2 separate regions of the Homo sapiens genome follow, and region 1 is linked to region 2. The links come from fine-mapping of genetic effects on plasma protein levels. A gene starts in region 2. The other region holds a variant in brackets. All regions are shown on one strand. Distances are from middle to middle.

The links. A credible set is the group of variants that fine-mapping cannot tell apart. PIP is the posterior inclusion probability: the model's chance that the variant is causal. Protein levels are from antibody-based Olink assays in UK Biobank. Linkage for the fine-mapping came from a reference panel and not from the study's own genotypes, which makes the PIPs less certain.
Region 1: its variant is the best candidate, but not a certain one, in a credible set for the plasma level of the EGLN1 protein (UK Biobank, PIP 0.65).

What each region holds. Positions count from the first base shown.
Region 1 is chr1:231,484,886-231,493,223 of GRCh38, forward strand. No RefSeq gene overlaps it. Among named protein-coding and RNA genes, the nearest start is that of TSNAX-DT, 40 kb to the right of the region's middle. The variant A/G (reference allele first, on the strand shown) is at 3,738.
Region 2 is chr1:231,417,725-231,426,062 of GRCh38, forward strand. EGLN1 (egl-9 family hypoxia inducible factor 1) reads right to left here and starts at 4,563. Exons shown (of 5, transcript NM_022051.3): 1 at 3,274-4,563. The coding sequence starts at 4,164. RefSeq lists an enhancer at 3,119-3,388 and silencers at 3,769-4,948, 4,704-5,028.

The DNA of each region.
Region 1 (8,338 bases), 67 kb after region 2:
CTGGTCCTGACTATGCTATGCTATCACAGCAAAAGAAAAATCAGGCATTTCAAAAAGAGCATGGAAGTTGTCAACTTTCAAAACTGTTCAGAAATTATTTTATTTGTTTAGTCAAATATTTTCTAATCCGTAACGTGCCATGAACAACAAAGGGCACAACCATCAAAAGATTACCTCTGTGTAGGCCCCAGGCCAAAATGGTATGCTTTACAACTTACCAGAATCTCTCATTTGATCTTCCACAGCAACCTTATATTAAAGGCAGCTTATATATTCTCATTTTACAGATGTGGAATTTGAAGCTTACGTGATTTGCCCAAGGTCACATTGCTGTTTAAAGTAAAATAGAGATTAGATTGCAGAAGGTTTGACTCATGGTTGGGACCTTTCCCACTACTCTTTGTGGCTTCTAATTCTTGAAATGTTATTATTGAGAGCACTCAATAACTGTTAACAATTATTGCCATTATTTTTATTTTTGTACTGAGCCTTATGAGATATGTGTTGTTATTATTTCACTGGAGAATAGGGATGTACGTGTCTTGCTTGCTAAAGAGCTAATGCAGCTTTATGAACAAGCAAACTATAGAGAAGTTTGATCTGCCGACAATGTTATAGTAATTCTCATTATGAAGATTTGGGTTTTACGGTACTTTGGCTCAAAGCCTGAGATGATGTCGTTTTTAATGATTCAAGGCATCTACAAAAGTTAAACCTCTTAACCACAGCTGACTGGGTAAAATGCATCGAACAGGCTTACTTTTGTAATAAAACAATCCATGTTATGGCATCTGAAAGGGCAGGTTTTCAGAGACTGGCTCAGGAGGGTGGCTTAAGAAATGTGATTAAATAAGAATTGCCAACCAGTTATTACCTAGGTGGCTGCTGGGAGGGGTTGAGTGACATGGGAGAGACAGCTTGAGGTTCTCAGAGCATCCTCCCTAGTGAGTTCCTGCCCAGGATGTTCGGGGCTGATGCTGTGAAACTGGAGTCTAGGAGTTAGGCTTGAGCCTGTGACCATAGGATCAAATGTGAACAGGAGGATCTTGGACAAAGTCATTTCTTAGGTAAGCTGAAGGACTTAGAGTTCCCACTTCCAGGATATATGGAATGGCACACATGCGTTGTGGAGACACACAGACATTCAGGCTTCCAGGGAGAGTACAATTAAGTAAAATGTGAAACCTGATTCTGTACATTCTTATTGTCCCAGTGAATCAGACACTTTTTTTTTTTCATAAATTTTTACTTTGGGCTTTTATTGTTGGAGACAGTATAGGATTGCTGCTGGAAATATGGCTCTTTGAGTTAGTCTGACACAGCTTCAAGGACCAGCACCAGTGTATTTTATTTGTTAATGTTAGCGCTATTGAAAATAAATCTCAGGCTGGCTGTGGTGGGTCACGCCTGTAATCCCAGCACTTTAGGAGGCTGGGGATGGCAGATTACCTGAGGTCAGGAGTTCAAGACCAGCCTGGCCAACATGGTGAAACCCTGTCTCTACTAAAAATACAAAAATTAGCCAGGCGTGGTGGCGGATGTCTGTAATCCCAGCTACTCGAGAGGCTGAGGCAGGAGGAGAATCGCTTGAACCCAGGAGGCGGAGGTTGCAGTGAGCCAAGATCGTGCCATTGCACTCCAGCCTGGGCAACAGAGTGACACTCCATCTCAAAAGAAAAAAAAAAATCTCAAATTTTCAGAGTATAATGTTCTTGGTTAGGTGGCTTTCCATGTGGTCATTCAAGGACTCATACCCCTAGGACATTGTGGCTCCCACCCTCCTCTAGGTCCTTGGTGTTCTCTCCATTCAGCTAGTAGATTACAAGAGAGAGAACACCTGGGAAATCGTGAAGGTATTTTTGTGGGCCAGTTCTAGCCGAGGTGTGCATCACTTCTTTGTATGCTATTAGACAGAACTTAGTCACAGGGCTTCCCTGAGATGCAAAGGAGCCTGGCTTATGCAGTTTCTGGAGAGCGAACCCCTTCTCAGCAATAGCTCCACACTACGGAAGCAAGCATGAGTCTACGGTGAACATTGTCATCTCTTCCACAACCACCTTGGCTGCTTAGCAACAATATGGCTTGGGTAAAGTTTCTCATCCCCTCTAAGCCTTAGTTTGGGATCTGCAAAATGGGAATACAAATACAGTCTCAATGCTACATATCTGTTTCTGCAAGGCTAATTAGCCCATATGCAATTGGTAAACAAGGATATGTTATCCATGAACACAGAAGTGGCATTGGTTCATATTTAAGTTTTCTCCTTACAGATTAACATTGTGTGTCACTGTATAATAGCAGCTGAATGCAAAGTCCATGAACACAGATGAGTCAGCCATGCATGCTTACCCCACACGCTTCCTCTGGGCTGAGTCCCACCATATGGTCTGTCTTGCAATTGCTTACTACATTGTTTCCCTGACTTTTGTGCATTTTTACCTGGTCTTCATAACTCAGCAACAGCAAACTTTCCTTATATTCTCTTCTATTAAGCTGATTTAATTTTCAACTTCTTTTAAAATAATTACAGGCTGACAGAAAAGTTTCAATAACAGTACAAAAAGTTCTAATGTACTCTTCACCCAGGTTCCCTAAATGTTAACAGGTTACCACAATTGCTTTATCTTTATCTGTCTATATTGGTTTTTTTCTGAGTTATTTGGATGATTTACATACATAACATCCATTAATCCCTAATCCTTAATTGTGTATTTCCTAAAAACAAGAACATTCTCTTATATAACTACAGTAAAATGATCAAAATCAGAAAAAATACATTGATAATTATACATATTTTAATACAATATTATTATTTAATCTGTAGCCCTTATTCAAATTTAATAGATTGTCCCAATAATGTCCTTTACAGCAAAGGAAAAAATGTATTTCCTGGTCCAGGATTACATGTTGCATTTAGCTGTTAGGTCTTTTTTTTTTTTTTTTTTTTTTTTAATTAATAGAGTAGAAAGAACAGAGAGTTCCCAAATACCTCTCTCCTGTCTCCCCTCCATAGTTTGTCCTATTATTAACATCTGGCATTGGTGTGGCACATTTGTTACAATTGATGAGCCAATATTGACACATTGCTGTTAATTAAAGTCCAGAGTTTACAATACACTCTTTGCGTTGTATATTCAGTGGGTTTTGACAAAGGTATAAGGACAAGTATCCACTATTACAGAACAATTTCACTCCCTGAAAATACCCCGTACTCCACTTATACATCTTTCTCTCCCATAGAGCCTTTTTAGACTGGCCTATGCAATGTGCATTTAGGTTTCGTCCATGTCTTTTTGTGGCATGAGAGCTCTTTTTGCTTTTCTTGGTTGTGTGTTTTTTGTCTCCTCTAATCTGAATAAGCTCCTTAGCCTTCCTTTGTCTTTTATGACCCTGCCATTTTTGAAGAGTATAAGCCAGCCATTTTATAAAATGTCCCTAGCTTCACTTTTTTGTATCAACTTAAAATGTCTTTATTTTTAGAAAGTTAAGGTGTCCTTTAAATTGTGATATTTTCATTATAATTGTTATTTAAGTACATTTGTTAGTGCTCTAATTTATAAAGTTGCATTGGTCTTTAGCAACCTGACTTAATCCTGTTTTTCACATAAGTCTATTATTTTTTGTGTGCAGTTTTGCAGAAGGCAAATTTTTCTTTAGAAAGTATCAAAGAGAAAGTAGGGAACTGGAACTTCAAGATAGGCAACAAGTAATAATATTTGTACTATCAAAGTCCCTGA[A/G]AAAGCAAATAAAATAATGAAACAGAACTAATATTTAAAATTATAATCCAAAAAACTTTCCAAAAATAAAAAGCTGAATCTATGAATTGAAAGAGCTCACTTAGGTACATGAGAAAATTCATCCAGAATGATCAACTCTGAGACACATCCTAGTAAAATTCATAGACCCAAAGATGAAGTCCTTAAAATCTCCAGGTAACAAGATCAAATATGCAAAGAGGAAAATTAGACTAGCATCAGACTTCATAAAACAATACAAAGTCAAACAACTGAGGAACAAGTTTTTAAGGCACTCACTCAAATAAATTGTGAATTAAGAACTTTATTTTCAGCTAAATTGCCCCTCAATGTGACGACTATAGAGAAACAGTCTCAATATACAAAAATGTAGAGAATTCTGTATCAATAAATCCTTTTGAGGAATTTATTAGAGAATGAACTTTCATCCAACCAGTAATGGCAGGAGAAACTTGAGTAAAAGAACTGATGGTAAGCATTTAATAATCTATAACTATACATAAAACTAAAACAAAGGTGGAGATGAGGATGGAAAACTAGCATACAAATGTTATATATTATGATAAAGTAGAAATAATATATCTTAAAAATAGGCAGTATAAGAAGAGGGAGAAAGAAAAGTAGAAAAAGCTCATTGTTTGAGGAGTAATAGGGGGATGTTAAGAGATACTGGAAAAAAAGCAAGCCTGATAAACAAGACAACAAAAGGTTAATTAACAAACGGGGGACCAAGAGCACTGAAAAAGATATAAATACAAAGGTAACCACTAAGATAAAAATATAAACTTTTCTAGAAAACCATAAATAAAATAGTAAAGAATACAAATCTCATAAACACAGGAAATATAACAAAATATAATAAAATGTTATGATTAATACCAAACATGTCACTCATAGCAATAAATGTGAATAGGTTTAATTCACCTATTAAGACCAAAAGACTCTCAATTCGTCTGACAAAACTAAAGCACAGCTATATAGTAGATAGCAGGCACACCTAAAACAAAAAGATTCAGAAAGGGTAGGTGAGAATAAAAGGATGAAAAAACCATATACCAGGCAAATGGAAATAAAGAGGGAGCAGGGGTAGCAATATCTATATTAGATAATGTAGACCTGGAAATGTAAAAAAAAAACAAAAAACTTCTTATTAAATAACTCTTGGCTGAAATGAGAAATACAAGCTGAAATACATTTATTTACTTATTTTTTTTTGAGATGGAGTCTCGCTCTGTCGCCCAGGCTGGAGTAGAGTGGTGCGATCTCAGCTCACTGCTGGCTCTGCCTCCCCAGTTCACGCCATTCTCCTGCCTCAGCCTCCCCAGCAGCTGGGACTACAAGCGCCCGCCACCACGCCCGGCTAATTTTTTTGTATTTTTAGTAGAGACGGGGTTTCACCGTGTTAGCCAGGCTGGTCTCGATCTCCTGACTTCGTGATCGGCCCACCTCGGCCTCCCAAAGTGCTGGGATTACAGGCATGAGCCACCGTGCCTGGCTGAAATACATTATTTTAAACAAATAATAGATAATAAAAACACTACGTATTAGAATCTATGGGATGTATTTAAAACAGTACTTAGAGAAAAATTAATTACACTACCTTTTCTCTAAAAGTGAAAGGACAAAAATAATGAATTAAATTTATAGTTCAAACAATTAGAACAGTTTAAAACAAAAGAAAACAGTAAAGATAAAAGCAGAGATTAGTGAAATAAAGAATAGAAAAACAGTAGCTCTAACAAATTGAAATCTTGGCTTTTTGGGGGACGAAATAAAATAGGCAAACTACTAACTAAATTGATGAAGAACAAAGAAAGTATAATATGTAGAGTAAGAAGTGAAAAGGGCGAAATAACCTTTCAAACAAAAGAAATTTTAAAAGTCAGAAGAGACTACTTTGCTGACCTCTAGACAAATAAATTGGAAAATCTGGATGAAGTGCATAATTTCTTACAGAAATACATTTTACCAAAATTAGCTCTGTTAGGTTTACAAAATTTAACCAATTTCCATAGAAGAAATGAAGACAGTTATTAAGAAATCACCCTGCAAAAAAAAAAACGCCAGGCCCAGATGTTTTCACGAGTGAATTCTACCAAGTTTTGAAAGACCAGGTCCTAACAGCTTATAAATTATTTCAGAGCATGGAAAATGAAAGAAAATTTCCAAACTGTTTTTATGAAATAGGAATAATGTTAGTACCTAAACCAGACAAAGACAGTACAAAGAAAAAAAAACCCTACCGATCTATGTCACTTTTGAATATCAATGAAAAAATGTTAAGTAAATTATTAGCAAATAGAATCTAAAACCACACTAAGAAAATAGTACACCATTGCTAAGTGGGATTTATTTGGGGACTGCAAACTTGGTTCGATATTAGAAACTCCATTAATACTATTGTATTAGGGTTTTCTAGAGAAGCAGAACCAATAAAATACATATATCTATATAGTCATGTGCTGTATAATGATGTTTCCATTAACAATGGATTACATACAACATTGGCCTCATAAGATTATAAATGATTTTTTTTTTTTTTTTTTTTTGAGACGGAGTCTCGCTCTGTCACCCAGGCTGGAGTGCAGTGGCGCAGTCTCGGCTCACTGCAAGCTCCGCCTCCCGGGTTCACGCCATTCTCCTGCCTCAGCCTCTCCGAGTAGCTGGGACTACAGGCGCCCGCCACCACGCCCAGCTAATTTTTTTTTTATTTTTAGTAGAGACGGGGTTTCACCGTGGTCTCGATCTCCTGACCTCGTGATCCACCCGCCTCGGCCTCCCAAAGTGCTGGGATTACAAGCGTGAGCCACCGCGCCCGGCCTATAAATGATATTTTTACCATACATTTTCTATGTTTAGGTATGTTTAGATACACAAATACCCTTGTGTTACAGTTGCCTACAGTATTCAGTATAATAACATGTTGTACAGGTTTGTAGCCTAGGAGTAACAGGTTATGCCATATAGCCTAGGTGCGTAGTAGGCTATACGATCTAGGTTGGCGTACGTATGCTATATGGTGTTTGCACAATGACAAAATTGCCTAACAATGCATTTCTCAGAACATATTCCCAGCATTAAGTGATGCATGACAGTATATATAAAGAGATTTTTCATAGGTTATTGGCTCCCATGATTGTGGAGGCTGAGAAGCCCCATAATTGGCTATCTGCAAGCTGGAACTGAGGAAAGCCAGTGATATAGTTCCAGGCTAAGCCTGAAGGCTTGAGAACCAAGAGAATCTATGCTGTAAGTTCTAGCCCAAATTTGAAGGCCTGGGACCAATTTTCCAGCTCAAGCAGTCAGGCAGAGAGAGTGAATTCTCCCTTTCTAAGCCATTTTGTTTTGCTTAGGCTCTCAACGGATTAGATGACACCCACCCACACTGAAGAGGGCCATCAGCTTTACTTACTTAGCCTACCAATTCAAATGCTAATATTTTATGGAAACACTTTTGCAGACACATCCAGAATTATATTTAACCAAATATCTGGGCACCCAGTGGCCCACTCAAATTGGCATATAAAAGTGTCACAACTATATGTCACATTAGAAAATCCAAGGAAAAACTCATAATTATGTCCATCAATGCTGACAAGGTCTTTGACAAAAGTCAACAACCACTCGTTACTTTAAAAAAGAAACGCTCAAAATAGGAATTGAGACATACTTTCTTAACACAATATAGTATGTATAGCCTAGTCTTTTAGTCAGTATCTTATTTAATGAGAAAACACTAGAGATGTTTCCATTAAGATTTTAATTTTAAATTTTTGTGTGTACATAGTAGGCCTATATATTTATTGGAATTAATAGTCTTTACATTAAATTCAGCATGACTCTAAACTGTAATCTAATCTGGCGAGAATGAAATTCAGTGTGTTGTTACTGTATTTCTACTATCAATTCTGACATCTGTGTGACTTGATTTGTTCCTATTAAGATTTCTCGGCCGGGCGCGGTGGCTCACGCCTGTAATCCCAGCACTTCGGGAGGCCGAGGCAGGCGGATTAAAGGTCAAGAGATTGAGACCATCCTGGCCAACATGGTGAAACACCGTCTTTACTAAAAATACAAAAAAAATTAGCTGGGCGTGGTGGCGTGTGCCTGTAGTCCCATCTGAGGCTGAGGCAGGGGAATCGCTTGAACCGGGAGGCGGAGCTTGCAGTGAGCCGACATCGCCCCACTGCACTCCAGCCTGGCGACAGAGCGAGACTCCGTCTCAACAAACAAACAAACAAACAAACAAACAAACAAACAAAGATTTCTAAGAGAATAAACCTTCTGTGTCCCTCCTAGGAATTCTGTATGGTTGTAGGTATGTCCGGGGGTAGTAAAAAGGAGGGAACCGACAGGTCTTTCACACACACTTTCAACCCATCCTCCTATTTTCAGCCCCACACCTGACCTTCACTTTTGCCTGAAGTCTTAACCCTTTCTGTGATTTTGCAGGATGCCATCGACGAACTCTCAGCTTGTTCACTACCTCCTCCGTACATATAAGTAGTGTCTTTCTCTACCATGCTAACAGTTACGCTTACTTCCCTTTGCAGATTCTGAAAATCAGTTGAAATCTTGTATGT
Region 2 (8,338 bases):
TCCCTTATGGTTCCTTTTTTAAAGTAGTTGCATAAACAGCGGCCAGATAAGCATGTTTGAAGTAGAAATTCAGGGGAAAACAAAGCCTACACTGAATGGGCCACAGACTATCATGTATCATCTGATTACCATGCCCTGACATAAAGAGCATGCAATATACATGATGTAAATAAAAAAGAACATCAGATTCTTAGTCAGAAAACCTGAATTTAAGTCCTAATATGCTGCAGAATTTCCAACAAGTGAACTAACTTTTCCTGAGTCCCACTTTTCTAATCTATAAAAAAAGGGATACAACCACCTGCCTACTGCTGTGAAAGTTGAAATGAGAAAAATACTACACATTTGCTGCATATAACTTTTAAAATCACTATAATGTTATGAAGGATAAAATTCTGAATTGAAGTCTCCCTCTGCAATCACATAAAAAAACCATATTCTGACATCTGTTAACAGTATACTGACAGGCGCATAATTCAGGTGGATAAATACAAAAGTGGCTTTTAAGCCACTATCTGAAATAAACATTGTACAGTCACCTAATAAAAAGTTTTACACAGCCCAACCATAGAGTATGATTACTCACATATAAAGCTAGTGCTATTCACCCACTTTCAACAAAATATATGTATCAAATTGCAGTTCCAGCAGTGTGCTAAATAATCTACATCTCATTTAATGTTCTACCTATAACTAGCGTAGTTAAAAAAGAGCATGGGTTTGATATCTGAATGACTTAAGTTTGAACACCAGCCAGGGTTATAGTAAGTGGTAGACCTCTGCCAAGTCTGAGCTGAAAATCCCTCAAATGTAAATTAGGAATAACACTACTCACTTCACAGAATTAAGATTATTGTGGCCAGGTGAGGTGGTTCAAGTCTGTAACCACAGTACTTTGGGAGGACAAGGCAGGAGGATCCCCTGAGCCGAGGAGTTCGAGATCAAATGATCAGCAAGACCCTGACTCTACAAAAAAAATTTTTTTTCATTTGGCCAAGTATGGTGGTGTGTGCCTACAGTCCCAGCTACTCGGAAGCTGAGATGGCAGGATAGCTTGAGTCCAGGAGGTGGAAGCTGCAGTGGGCCATGCTTACACCCTTGTACTCCAGCCAGGGCAACAAAGCAAGACCCTGTCTCCAAAAAAAAAAAAAAAAATACTCTGATTGTATCTGTATTGATCCTAATATGATGCCTAACACACTGTGGTTGGTTGCTCAATATACGGTGGGTGGTTATTTTGATTGCCTTCTCATTTCCACAAAGCAAACACCCTTGTTTTTTAGGAATAAATTACATGTTCAAACACGATTACCAAAACCTCTTTCAGCCAAGAAGTACAATGAAAGGAATTCCTGAATATCATTTATAGATCCTGAAGTTGCGTCCCTAAAATTAATATAAGCAGATCAAATCCAAAGAGTTTAAAGGTCATCCCTCCTTCATCCTGTCCCTTATTACCTGCTAATATGTACAGTTACGTGACTTAAAACCCCAACAACTAGAACTCTTGAGGAAGGAGGTACCTATTTCCTAATAGCATCTCTATGAGAAGCATTTGCTCTAAGAGCCAGGCTGTCTGCTGTCCCTTCTCTAAGGACAGGTGAAAGCAGGAAGACAAAAGAGAAAAGAGGTCTCAGCTTAACTTGGAAAGCTAAATTAACTAAGGAAAGCAGATCAAGAAAGATTTGGGACATCATCTTCTTCAAGAATCCAATTTAAGCTTATGTCCCAACTATATACTTTGGTCAGTCTTCACAGCCCTATTGTCTCAAACTAATTTCTTTCCTGCTCTGGAGCTCAGGACTTTATGTTCAGATGTGACAATTTCTTAAAGTTGTGCCCTGACAACTTTCTTAAAAATTTTATCAATGAAAATCTAGTGAAAGACCAACGCTGAAATTTCATCAGATCCCCCTTTTCCTTCCAGTTTAATATTATTCAACTGTTCCTTTTTAAGACTACAAGAAATTAAGACTTGTGCCTTCATCCAGCAATGAAGTGGCAATAGGTAAATTAGACTCCACATTGTATTTTTCCCCACAAAATGTTCACGTTTATAACTTTCTCACTGCCTATGTTCAGTCTTTCGGGCAGCCTGAGAATCACATGTAATGACTGTCAAAGTAGATGATCTGACACACACATACAGAAAAACCACTAGTTAGAGTCAGCGTGTGTGTACAAACATGCAACTGTGATGCTCTCCCAGGTCAATCTCTCAAAACCCACAAAATCAGAGACTGATGGTGGAGGAGGGTGGCCTGGGAGCAGCCACAAAGAAAAGATCAAGATCTGAGAAGTAAAATGAAAAAGAGCTGCAAGAGAGTTGGTTAAGGACGAAAGAGTCTACTGTTTATCATGAGGGAGGAAAGAGGGAATAGACTAGGTAAGAAGTGAAGAAATCTGTGGAGGAAAAACCGCAATAGTAAAGAGAAAACAAAAAGATCTCACCAAATTGGGAGGATAAAACGAGCCCTCCTGCGCCAATTCCGTGTTGTTGTTTTGTTTTGTTTTGTTTTCCAGGAAGTTACAAAACAGTTTTCAACAGAAGGATTACATTAACAAAGCAAATAAAGGAAACTGGTGCTAAAAATGTAGCCTACCTACACTGAGAGGCCTGAAGACGGAAATACTTCTTTCCCCTTTTTGTAACGGGTTTCAAAACAGTAGGAACAGGGTGAGGGATAAGAGCTATAACAGGGGGAGGGGAGTAGCCAAGCTCTTCCTGAATACAGAGTCTTTCGACTAAATGCTTATTTTAAATGTACCTTTTTGCGGTCAGCCGGCAAATTCCTAACTGAACACAGCGTTTGACTCTCAATCGAAATGTGATGAGTGGTTCAGACACCATAGGAAATTTAACAGCTTATGCAAACACAAGGCAGATGCAGAACCAGGACTTGCTTTGGGTGGTACTCTAACACCCCTTCACTGGGTGGCTAAAACGCCACTAAGGTTTGAATTGTGACCAATAGTGGAATGGAAAAAAGAAAATAGGAAAGTTAAAGCGCCTACGTTGAGTCAAAAAACCATGCAATTAGCCGGAGAAGTTTGTGAACGGGCAGTAAGTGGAAAACAGTGGATACAAAGGGGCTAACTAGATAAACAGCTACTACAAATTCTGTCCGTCTTCCTTACGGGGAGCTACACAAGAAAGAGCGAGTCCCTTCTATATAGAGGAATGCTGCTTCTCAGCCTAGGCAGTTTCAGTCGCAGGCAGGGGCTGCCCGCCGAGAAGGGCCTGTCCAGCACAAACCCGCAGCACACACTTACTTTCGTCCGGCCATTGATTTTGTAGCTGCCCAGCTTCCCGTTACAGTGGCGTATCAGGTCGTCCATGCTGCTCATGAGCAGCCCAATGGTTTCGCAGCCGGGCTCCTTGCCCTCGATCCAGGTGATCTTATCGCCTCGGATGTCCTTGGACGAGTCACTCTTCTGGCTGACCAGCTGCCCGTCCGTGAACTTCCCGGTGTCGTGCAGGGCGCGCACCTCGTCGCCGATCTGCTGTCCGGTCTCCTTGCCGAGGAAGTCGTCCACCACACAGATGCCGTGCTTGTTCATGCACGGCACGATGTACTCGAGCGCCAGCTTCAGCGCCGGCAGGGGCTTCGTCTGCCCGTTGGGCCGCAGGCCGCCGCCGGGGCTCAGCGCATCCCCGGGCGTGTTGCTTGGGGGGTACAGGTTCGCCTTCTCCTGGAACAGCGATGAGCGGGCCGGCGGCTCCTCCTTGCCGGGCTCGGCTTCGGCAGCCACCGCCGAGCCCTGGCCGCCGGCGGCCGCACGACACGGCGACGCGGCCGCCGCTGGGTCGGCCGGGGGCTTGGCCTTTACTTTTCCCTTGGCCGCGTCCCCGGAGGCGTTGTCCCGGCGCGCCGCTGCCTTCCTGGGCTCCCGGGCCCCGGCCCTGGGCGGCGGCACTGCAGCCGGCGGCGCGGGGCCGGAATGCTGGTGTGGGCCCACTCCGTGGCCGAGGGCGCCCTCGCTGCCCTGGCACACGAGCTTGTGCTTCTTCCAGTCCTGACGCTGGTGCTCCTTGCAGCAGTAGAAGGAGCTGCGGCAGCGGCTGCAGCGCAGCAGGTTCTCCATCTTCCCGCACAGCTCGCAGTACTGCCGGTCTCGCTCGCTCGGGCTCGGCCCGCCGGGCCCGCCGCTGTCATTGGCCATGGCGGCGGCGGCGGCGGCGACGGCGACTGCGGCGGCCGAGCAGGAGGGGTAGCGGCCGGACGGCCTCGCCCGAGGCTGGGGAGCGGGGAGAGAGATAGGGGCCGTTACTGCGCCATGCACCCGCTACCCTCGCCTCAGGGAGGCCGGCACCCCACGCCCTCGGCCCGGCCGCTTCCGAGTCCTAAGCTCCGGCGCAGCGCCGGCAGCCGCCTCAGCGCCTCATCGCCGCCGAGGGCTGAGAGAATAGGGCCTGTGCGGCGAATGGCAACCTGGGCTCAGGCGCGCGGGCCTGGGGAGCGCAAGACCGGCCCCCTCGGCCGCCGCCGCCGCCTCAGCGTCCCGGGCGGCCCGGCCCAGGCTGTGGAGGAGCGCAGGGCATACGGGCGCCACTCGCTCTGCGCGCTCTGCACGTACACCACGGCCCCGCGGCGACCCGGGCGGGCGGCGCGCGAGGGCGGAGGGGGCGGAGGGAGGGCCGGGAGGGCCGGGGGGAGGGCCGAGGGGCGGGGGCTGCCTGCGCTCCTCCGCACTCGGCGGGGCCGGGCCTCGGCTTCTGCCTCGGAGGTGGGTCGCCCGCTTTCCCTCCGCCCGGGACCGGACTGGGACGCCGAGAGGCCGGTGCGCTACCTCAGCCCGCAGCGGCCTCCTCGGGGACGCCGAGGCGCAGGCCCGCGAGCGGCGGAAAGGCGTGGGGCAGCGCGGCAGCGCCTACACCTGCTGGAGGAGGGCGCCAGCCGCAAGCGGGTAGCGGAGCGAAGGCGGCGTAATCATGGCTGCTCTTCCTCCAGGCCGGCGCGGGGTGTGCGAGGCTCGCTCCAGTCAAGGTTGCAAGGTGGCTATTGCGATCCTCATTTTGCAGAGGAGGAAACGGAAATTCAGAGAAGTAAAGTAACTTGCCCAAGGTCACGCAAAACTGGGACTGAATCCAGGAATCAGGCTCCCAGATTCCAAGGCTGTTTTTTCCATTACACCATACAGCCTCTATTTCAAGAAGCCCTGAAATGGTTAAGAACAAAATAAGTATTACTATGGTGTTAATCCAATCTCTTGCGCCCCGTTTCGACCTAGTTTAAAGGTAATGAAATTTGAGGGTTTTAAAAAAAATCAAAAACTCATTTTTAAAACCTTTGAAATCCCGCCGAGTTCAAAACCCCATGAAGAAATTTTGGGCTACCAAGTTAAATGTAATCAATGCTCATTCCAATATCCAATTTAAACTGATGGGATTATTCCTGAAAAGTGAATTTTGATGGTAAATGAGCAGTACTACATTAACGACTCTCACATTTATTTTTAATAGAATCTGTGCTGCGCGGATGAATACAATTCTTTGTTTTACAGAGCATAAAAACCTTACCAGAAATAAGCCAAAGATGTTTCTTTCTGCTGCTATTTGTCTTAAGAATTAAAAGGTCTGTGATTTCGAGTTTATCAATCTTTATCGAACACTATGTGGAAAGTGGGGTGCTAGGCTTGTGTATCACTTGAGTATACTGTAACTTCAGTCCTTGAAATATAGCCTTCCAAACTTAAAAAGTTGTAATATGTATTTCAAAAGCAGGATATAAGGAATTATTGTAAACCATATTGTAGAAGTTTAAAAAGAGGCTTGAATCCAAAAATATAAAACCTCTTCATCAAATATACAGAATTTAAAACTGTTATAAAATCCTGCTGCATGCGTAAATGGCATTCTGGGGATCCAATCAAGTGAAAGAGGATGATAATTCCAATTAGCTTGTCCTTTGGGAAACTGAGATAAATATACTCACATCTTCAAATTTCAAACCGAACTAAAAATCCAAGTTTCTGTAAAGAATTTAGACCTAGACCTGTCTTATGTGTATCCTACTTTCCCAGAGCTTTATTAAATACAGTAAAATGTCATTGTTGCAGACATTACTAATTAGGCTGTTCAACAAATGCATTGAGAGTCCTTGACAAACAAATGAATTAGTCATACTACACTCAGAGACACATAGTCCAATGCAGGAGGCAGGTATGTAAACAAGGACAATCCAGAGTTCAGAGTTTCCTAAAAGAGGGATGAATAGGATGGAATGGGAACACAGAAAAAGGAATTGCTAGCTCTGCCATTTGCACTAATAAAATCCAAGCAAATTAATTCAGAAATTCTTAAAATATAAAGGAGCTATCTCATGGCTTACGAAAATAAGCATTTAAAACATTTTTCATACACATAAATTATGTAAAATGTAATTTAAATACAAGTAGAGTCTAATACTTCTTAGGCTTCCTTTTGCTATAGTAATTATACATGAGGCTTAATTATTCACAAGAGCAGGAACTTTACTAGGAGGACTCATTCCACAAACACTTGATTCTTCCAACAATTTCTTTTAAATTTGCTATTTCAGTCTGTGGTGTGTCCACAAATTATTTACATCTCTATATGCTCTACTCATATATTTTCATTGAAGTTTACTTAAAAGAATAGATGTCCATATCAAAACCTTTATTAGCTTTCTTGTTCCAATTAAGTATACAAAATCACAAATTGAACATGTATATCCTAAATATACTTAATCCATCAAATAGAACACTTGCAACACTTTAATGAATACAACAGGAAAATATAAAATACTGATTTCAAATAGTTCCAAAGATCCTTGATTTCAGGATTTTCACCTATTCAGGCTTAATAATCTGAACTAATTCCAAATTAGTGAGTTTTCACCACACCATATGCTGGTGAACAATCTTGTCACCAACACGATTCTGGAACTCCAGTAGCATTGTCGCAGCCGCCACTTACTCAGATGTTATAGAGAGACTTCAAAATGTCATGCAAGTATTTATTTATTTATTTACTTATTTAAACTTTAACGGAAGGCAACACAAAGGAATTTATCTTATAAACACATGTGGTGCTTGCTGTTATGTGCCCAATCTGTGTTCTAAGCATTTTAAAAATATTAACCAATTTAATCATCATACAATGCTATGAAGTGGGTACTATTATTCTACCAATTTTACAGAAGGTGAAACAAATAGAGAGTGAGGCAATGAATGTCCCTCCCAATCCTTAATATTGTATGATTAGGAGCACTAGGTGGGTTAACTAATACTCTGGGGCAAACAAAGCCTTGTGTCTCTCAAAGCCATTAATTATTACAAATGTTTTTCTGCCCCTAACCTAATCAAAAGCAACTGTTCTAGAAACTGAAGAATGAATTAAAGTAACAGTGCTTTCCTCTCCATATCATACCAACTTAGACAAAGCTAATTGACCACCTATTTGGCTTCCCTTTGCTCTTCTGGCAGTATTTAGTTAAGCTATAAAGAAGTAGCCACTGTGAACTGACAAGAACTAAAAGAGGCAAAGCTTATGTTAACTACAAGAACAGAATTGAAGGAGGAAATGAATTTAGAAACGACTGTGTTGACTCTTGAGGAAAGCCCACTGAACAACAATCTGCCTTCCAAGGAGTAGCCCTATTTCTCCTTTAAAAATGTTTTTAAAAACACAACAGAGTATCTTTTCTGCTCAAGAAATCGAACATCTGATTGTTAACTAATGACCTCTTGTTTCCCCATCTGTGACAATCTTGTTTTAATAGGTTACAGAGAACAGAAAAATCACAAGTATAGCATAGGCATTCCACCAAGATAAACAGGAAGACAATCTTTGAGTTCTGGGAAAAGCAACTCAAAAATCTGAGCCATTTTCTAACTATAGTATTAGGACACACACAAGTAGGTGTCATTGGAAAACAGCACCTGCTTGTCTCTGTACTGGGGGTTCTGCCAGATGCACACGTGAGCTATGTGCTTCTCCTTGTACATGGAGACAGCTGTACTTTCCACCAAGGTTGTTCCCTTATGAAAACAAAATAATTGAATAGATTTGCTATATATTGGGGCGATTTATCAGTCATCAAACTTTATCAGTTTATGATTGAAAAATTACCACCAATCCTGTTAAAATTGATCATCTCAGAAATATAACAAAAATTTATAATCATCTCTCATTATAGCGAATTTTTTAAATAAATGCTCAAAAACCTGGGATACTAAATAACGTGTCGATCTAATTTTTTTTCCTAACAAACATTACCTTAATGTTGAACCAACTTTTGGGATAGTCACAATCAGTGACTTATACCAACCCAGGTTGGAGAAAGCTAAATAATTTTTCCTGTAACATTTTCTT